Linked DNA regions of Homo sapiens. The protein of the gene in region 2 interacts with the protein of the main gene of each other region in a pairwise test. Each region holds a gene or a part of one and is shown on either strand. Other genes may lie near its edges. The genes, in order: JAZF1 and RXRA.

The links.
Region 1: the proteins of RXRA (region 2) and JAZF1 interact in a two-hybrid assay, tested with the Homo sapiens proteins (one study listed by BioGRID).

The regions. Positions count from the first base shown.
Region 1 is NC_000007.14:28,170,508-28,174,321, forward strand, and holds part of JAZF1 (juxtaposed with another zinc finger protein 1), read right to left. Parts: intron 1-3,814. UniProt on the Homo sapiens protein: Acts as a transcriptional corepressor of orphan nuclear receptor NR2C2. Inhibits expression of the gluconeogenesis enzyme PCK2 through inhibition of NR2C2 activity.
Region 2 is NC_000009.12:134,329,320-134,333,133, reverse strand, and holds part of RXRA (retinoic acid receptor RXR-alpha), read right to left. Parts: intron 1-3,814. UniProt on the Homo sapiens protein: Receptor for retinoic acid that acts as a transcription factor.

The DNA.
Region 1 (3,814 bases), on a different chromosome or scaffold from region 2:
TCAGTAATTACAACCATTTTAGAACTGCCAAATTATTGTTTTCATTGTTGTTACTGTGATGGGATGCTCATGCACCCTCCTGTCCTACCTAAGTGTTTTCTTCAGAAGCCTTGACACATTCAGAAACATTTCTACCTCAACCAGACAACCGGCATCAAAATATGTCATCAACCATCCATACTGCTCCCATCGACACTGCTCTTGGTGGAAATCCAGCCTTTCTGTATTTATTTCTCCAAGACTTTCAGGTGCGGAAGAGCCTTCAATGAAAATGCAAACATCTTGTAAAAGATCACAACTTAGGCTGTAAAGAGCAAGCACTGAGTATATGGGCACACCTGGCAGCAAAGCCGGCCCTGGCTACCCCGGGCATTTTCCTGGCTGTTCTTTGCTCTGTGTCCTGGCTTCCTCCTGCGTCGCATGGGACTAACACTGCATAATGCATATTAAAGCAACTAGCCAGTAGGTACTGTGAAAGGAAAATCAATCTCGGGATCCCCCCAAATAATAAATAATAGTATTACTATCTCATATAAATAAGACTGTAAGAGCTGCCCAAGTTTGAAAAGCTCAAGTTAGTGAGATCAGGAGGATTCAAAATCCAATTCTGTATAGCTTCACAGTCCATGCTTCTCACCACCCAGGCCTCTGCCTCCTGTGTACCAAATACCCCTGGCAATTTAACAAGGAAAATCAATTTCCTTTTTAAATCAGCTTTAAAAAGAGTCTCTTTCAGATTCCCTTAATATAAACCATACTGGACTAATTGCATAATGGATATTTGTGTGAATGCCATAAACACATAAACATATAAATATACAGCCCTCATTGATGCAAACCTACAGAAATTAATTTCAAAGATGTTTTTCACTGTCCAAAGTTACCTTTGTAATTTATTTTTTTCACAGCCCAAAGTACTTCTCAATTTTTATTTTCATACCATTTCTGAAAACACGTCTTGGGGACGAGGATAGGATGATGACAAGACCCTGAGTTTCTGGGGGAGGAAACAGTGCACAGGAGGTGACCACACAGTTCAGAGCACACCCCCGCTGGTGCAGCTGTGGGCAGGGGCTACAGGACAGAGAGGGGAAGACCCATTAAAATAATGATATTTATTGAGGTAAAAGAGGCTTTCTGTCCTGAAGAAAAATATTTCTGTTTTATACCAATATAAACAAACACTCTAGTTCATATTTCACTAAGTGTGTTATTTAACTAATATGGTAGCATATTTAACTCCAAAGCGGAAGGCAGTACTTACAGGATGGGGGTAATGTCTACTTCACAGGCTTGCTGTGAGGGCCAATGAAATACTATACAAAAATTATTTAGCACTGTCTGTGGCACATATAGTAATGATTCCCGAATTGGGAGCTCAAGGAATAGACCCAAGTTTTGTGGGCCTGCAGATTCAGACTTTTCTTATGAAAAAAAATTGAATGTTATAAAATGTTTACAAAAGTGATTATCTATTGAGATTAAGAAATCACAACAAATCACAAAATTTTACAAGCCGCAATACCAAAACATCCTAAAATCAGAATCCAGGAAAAGAACCCAGTATGTGTATTAATTAACTTCCTGACACACTGCTATAAATACTTCTTTTGGGCTGTATACTCTGATGAATCCTCATATCACAATGACTTATATTCATATCATTTTCCACAGGGCAGAAAGATGAATCAATCTCCCCTCAAGCATGGGTGATCAAAATTTATTCCTAATTATTGACAATTCAGAAAAGTTACTTTTAGCCTTATAGTTCTTTATTGGCAATGACATATACATTTTTAGGATTGTTGTCAAACCTGTAATCACATCTCTTAATTTTCTTTCACATATGAGCCATAAAAATCCAGGACATTTCAAGTTTTCTCGTGCAATGACTAACTTTAAATATTCTTTTTATCAATGATACTCATTAACCAGTTTGTTGTCAGTATTTTTGGTATCAGGCATATTCATGTCAAATGAACAAGAATCTTAAACACAGAATTCCCATTAAAAATGGTGCATTTCTAATAGTATATTTGTATTATTGAGTATATTCCTAAAAGAAGAGAATTTTCATACTGACTACACTTAGATAAGAACTGAATCCTCCACGTAGAATTTTACACATCTAACAAGTGAAAGAATTCTCCACAGACCTGGCTCCACGCACCATAAACCATCCCACAGCAGATGTCATGGTACCCGTTAACACTGCAATTCTCTCTCTGACCCTCCCCTTTGTGTAAGGACCCCAGGTAAGCTGGCACGGTGGGTGGCGATCCTATGAAGCAACTTCTACACTAGGATGGCTAGGGATAACTTGACACAGAGATGACTGTGAACTGCATAAATACATCCCACTAAACCCAAACAAAATGTGGACCCAATTCGACTTCCCCCTAGCTATATCTCAAAAGCACTTTCAAGTCCAATGTCATCAAACCCAAACAGAAATGTGACAGCAGGGAAGTCAGAATGAGAAAGAAAAACATTAAAGGATTGCTTAAAATCTTCTTCCAATTTTACCAGTTATGATCCCATGAAGGCCCAGCTACGTATACTGCTAGGGCTCCTCCAGGGCCCTGGAAAGTGCTGGGTGGGCCCTGGCAATATATTCAAAAACGGCAAGGAATGCGTTGTACAAGTCAGGGGCCCTGGGGCTGGAGCTTCATTAGCTTCACAATAAATCTGCCTCTGTGGTCCCTATTATTATTCATTATTTATCTCAGTCTGTACATGTCTGGTCTCTCCAAATAAATTTCAAATCCTTAGAGATAGGAAGTACTGTCTTAAGCACTAACATAGGAAATACTCAAAAATGTGTGGCTGTCCTCACTATCCATGGTGATCTTGAAAGAGAGGGAAAAAATGTATAATACAAATGTATACATATACACACATAAATATATACACACATATGGATATACGTACACACATATATGTGGTATGTGTATTAGACATATACATGTATTATTTATATATGTGTTAGATATCCTACATGCCTTTGTGCCTAAAATATATATTTATTTCTATATATCAATTATATCTATAATACCAAAGAAATGGTGAATTTTTCAGTGTTATTAACCTGGCATCCAGATCATGTCCCTTCAAGGAGGTCTATCTCAGGAGAAAGTCACCATTGTAGTCTGGCAGACAATGAACAGTGCTTCCTTGGGAGGCCAGTGGGTGAGCTGGGCAAGGGACAATGGCCGTCAGGGGACTATCAGTGCTCTCTGGTGCTGGGCAGACAGTCTATTGTTAGTGACCCAAGAAGAGTCCCTCTGACTCCTGCCAAAGTTGACAGCAATTGGAAAGACTTCACCCTTAAAGAGGATATCCACTAATCTGGTCCCTGCTTGCAGCTAGCTTTAAAAAAAAAAAAAAAAAAAAAAAAAAGTAGGTGAAAACTACTGCAACATTCCAGTGCTTACAGCGAGGGGAAAATACAATTTTCTTTACAGCAATTAAATATATTAAATGGAAGGCACTTTTAAAAAATACACACATAATAAATTTCTGACATCTATGGTTTCCTATCTTCAGATTCTAAATAAATAACATTTTTCAACTTAATACGTTAGCCAGGTCAACATGGAATAAATCTATTACCTCACCATGAAACAAAATGAGTATCTACAATCCAGCAAGTATTTCTTTGTACACAGGACACGTCTGTACTGTCAAGATCTGAAGGCGGGGGTAAGAATGGGGTAGAGAAATATAAGGGAATGTGGGGTATGTATGATTGTTGCCCTAGAAGCTAAAACTAGAAAAGGAGGATTTTTAAGGAATTCAGAAACATTGTCTCCTG
Region 2 (3,814 bases):
GGTCCCCTCCATGGTCTCAGCATCCCTGATCCGGCCCCAAGAGGCCCGGCTGCTCTACTCCCCCTGGACGGCCTGCCCCCTACTTCATCCAGAGCCTGGGGAGTGCAGGGGGGGCCGGAGCCAGGGCCAGGGAAAAGGTGCCTCACCCATACCCGTGCCCGGGAAAGACGACCCCCAGGCCAGCCCAGGGACCTGGCCTAAGCCCCCAGGAAGATGCTAGGAATCCTCCCCCCTTCCCAGGCTGCCATGCTGAGGAGCCCAGCCAGGGCAAGGGTGCAAGGCCATTCACAGGGGCCCCAAGGCCCACCTGAAACCAGTGAGCCACCTGGAGAGAGTCACTTCCTCCTTCCAGGCCTTGCCTGGCTGCCTCCAGACCACCCTCTGCACAGCACTGGTGGCCTCATTCCAGCCATGAGCACCACACTGGGATCCCCCAGTCTCCGGGCACCCATGCACCTACGCCCGGCACACAGGCCCTACCCAGCCTCACCTCACACGTGAACCCCCTCCTGGTTCCAGCCCTGCAACCCCACCCTTGCGTCCTCACCCTCTTCACCCCCTCCAGGCCAGACCTTGCTGTCCCTACCTCTGGGCACCCCTCCCCCACCCCTCCTCCACAGGCAGCAGGACCAGGCCAGCACCCAGCGGGCGCTCCCTAAGCCACGTGTGGACAAGCCCACCAGCAATCCCCGCCTCCCCAGCCAGGGTTGTCAAGGCTCTGCCAGGTCACCCTGGGAAGGCTGCGGCGGACGCCTGCATGCATGGGGTGGGCCGCGTGTGCTGGGTTAGGACCTCAGAAAGAACTGTGCCCCTACCCTGCCCTGCCCTGGGACCCGGGGGTCCAATCTCACTCCGTCCACTCCCCCAGGTACCTCAGGAATTTGCTGCAGACAGTGCTGCCCTGGTGGCATGAGGAGGTGGGCAAGCCACAGTTCCAGGCTGGGCCTCTGCTGCTCACCCAACTACAGCTTTCCACCTGGGAGTGGGGACTTCTCCTAGCCACCACCCCAAGCCAAGGACAACCCTGGAGTGAGGATCAAGGGGTCGCCACTCCTTAGAGGGCCTTCAACCAGCACAAGAGGCCAAGATGCCCAGTCCCAGGGCACAGAGCTGGCATGGTGAGACCTCAGCCCTCCACCAGGGTCCCCACTGAACAAAAACCTCACTCACTCGGGCCAAGACCAGCAATGGGGCTCCTGGGAACCAGCATGGGGCATAGACCCAGCCTGGTCGGTGAGCAGCCTCTGAGGATGCTGAGAGGCAGGAGGACCAGGGGCAGCAGAGCCCCCACCCTGGGGACAGGTCCTCCCAGCTGGAGCTCAAGGCGGCCCCCGCCAGTCAAGTGCCGGAGAAAAAGCAGGCCCCACAGCGGGACACAAAGGCTGGCCCACAGACCTCACCCAGGGTTCAGTGTCCCCATCCACTAAGTGGGCTTGTCTCTGTGACACCTCCACAAGGTCCCAAAAATAAAGTCCCTGGCACGCAGCAGGCACCCGCTGCAGCCATCGGCACCTTCGTGGGGGTAGGGTGAGTCCTGGACAAGTTGGGGAGATTTAGAAAAAAAGGAGGCCAACAAACCCAGCAGGGAGCACCATGATCCTTGGGGGACCCCATGAGGCCTGGCTCACTCACGGGCACGCCAGGACACGGGCCAGCGGCCAACAGCGCCAGGTGAGAGCCTGTGACTCTGTGTGTGTGCAACAGTGAGCGTGCACACACCCAAGCCCTGCACGCGGTCCGCACCCGCTCTCCCCACAGCGGCCGGGCCAATTTTCCTTAGCTGCTTTCTGCTCCATTTCACGCTCATTCAGCTGCTGAGCTAGACAATTGCTTTGTAACTCTAGGGCGCAATTTCCCTGTCTGTGAGGCGCTGGGGCACAACTGCTCAGAACATCTCGCACCAGGCTCGGGTGGGTGTGCAAACCGCGGTCCCTCGCCCCACCTGCCTTCTTGGGACTCTGAGGAGGGTCCCTGGAGTGGCACAGGGGCTGGTCCCAAGGACCCAGCAGCAGCGAGCGCTCTCCTGTGGCAGGCCTATATCCACAGAAAGGGCTACCTCAGTGTCCCCGATGTCCTCTATTCCTGAGTCTGTTCCTCTACACCTGACAGCCCCCAGCGACCATCATGGCCTGTTCTGGTCCAGTGCTGGAAACCTGGCCCCACCTGACCCAGGCAGGAGGCACAGAGAGGACCTAGCCACAGGATAGGGGAAACGCCCCACAAACAGACTCCCCAAACTCCCAGCCAGCCTACAACACACCAGGCTGCCTTCTCCAGCATTTGGAAGAGCCAATGAGTATGTCCATTTTTCAGATGGACAGCCAAAGCCCCAAGAGGCCAAAGAGCAGACCAGGCAGGCAGCGAGGACAGAAGGCCCAACCCCAGGTGGCCTGACCACCCGCCCAGCAATGGGACACCACCTGTCAGAACCTCTTCCTGGGAAGGTGCTGATCCCTGCAAAACCACCACCACCTCCATCCTGCAGGTAACAAAGGCCCTGAATGGGAGGGGGCAGAGGAGAGGAAGGAAGGATGAAAGACAGAGCTGCACCCTATAAAATGGAAACATACAGGCAGGTGGGCAAGGTGCAGGGGGGAGGAGGGTGACCCCTCTACCCACACCATAGCACCCTGAAACTGATCAGCTTAAGAATCTCAGGACAAAGGTCTGGAAGGTGACCCCCAAATGGACACCAGCCCCCAACAGCCACAGGCCAGCCCCCCAGGCCCTTGTGGCCCTAGACCCCAGCCTCATCCCTAGCCCAGCAAATGGCCAATTCCTATGAAAACACACCAGTTAACAGGCCAACCCAAGGCCCTGGCCACCAAAGCCAGCTAAAAAACACAAACTCAAGCCTGGCAGAGAAGGGAAGGAGGGGCAGGTCTTGGCTTGCAAAGCCCGGGTCCCAGGGACAGTGTCCCAGCCCTGAGCCAGCTGGGGGTTGGGGAGGGCCTCTGCCCTGTGTCTGCTGGGACAGCTGTGCCCTCTTCTCCAGAGGACAGGCATTGCTCACCACTCGAGGTCCCAGCCCTGAAACATTTGACCCATGGCAAAACCAAACGTCACCCAAGAAAGGAAACTCCCCAGGCAGCCTCCACTGGCACTGGGTGGACCTGTAAAGCTTTCACCCCGCCCCCACACCACCTTCCATGCAGCTGAGGTCTGTCCCACCCTCTCCTGATGCCAGAGCCCCCTGCCACATGCACGACCAGGCCCCAGGGGCAGAGGGGCACACCCCTGAGTACCCCCTGTTCCCACAGTAATTCCACAGCAAATCCTGCAGGCACCCTTTCCCAGGGGAGGAAACAAAGACCACTGACAGCGACCTCCCACACAGCCACGGGGGAGATGGGGCAGGGGCCAAGAGAGGGCAGTCAGAGGGGCCTCCTGGTGGAGGTGAGCCCCCCACAGGCCCTGAAGGACAGGCACAGCTGGAAGAACCACCAGGTGCTGGCAGAGCCGGGAGCCAGTCACAGCAGCTGCCCGCGTGACCAGGGCTGCCGGCTCAACCTGCACCCCACACCCCAAGGGACTCAGAGCACCCGCCCCCCACCAGCCCTTCCTAGGGGCCCAGCTCGTCCCATCCACATCTGGGCAGAGGGTCACAGCTGCATGCTCGGGTCCAGGCCCAGCAGCCAGCCCTAGGCAAGGTTGGAGGCTAGCAAGCCAGGGCCACCATCGGACTGGGCCATTTTTCTCTCCCTGACACCTCCCCAGTCAACAAACAGGGCCCCTCCAGAGTTTACCAAAACAAACACCCTGCCGTCGGGCAGCGCCCGCGCTAAAAGACGCCCTCGTCAGGCCCGAGCGGGAC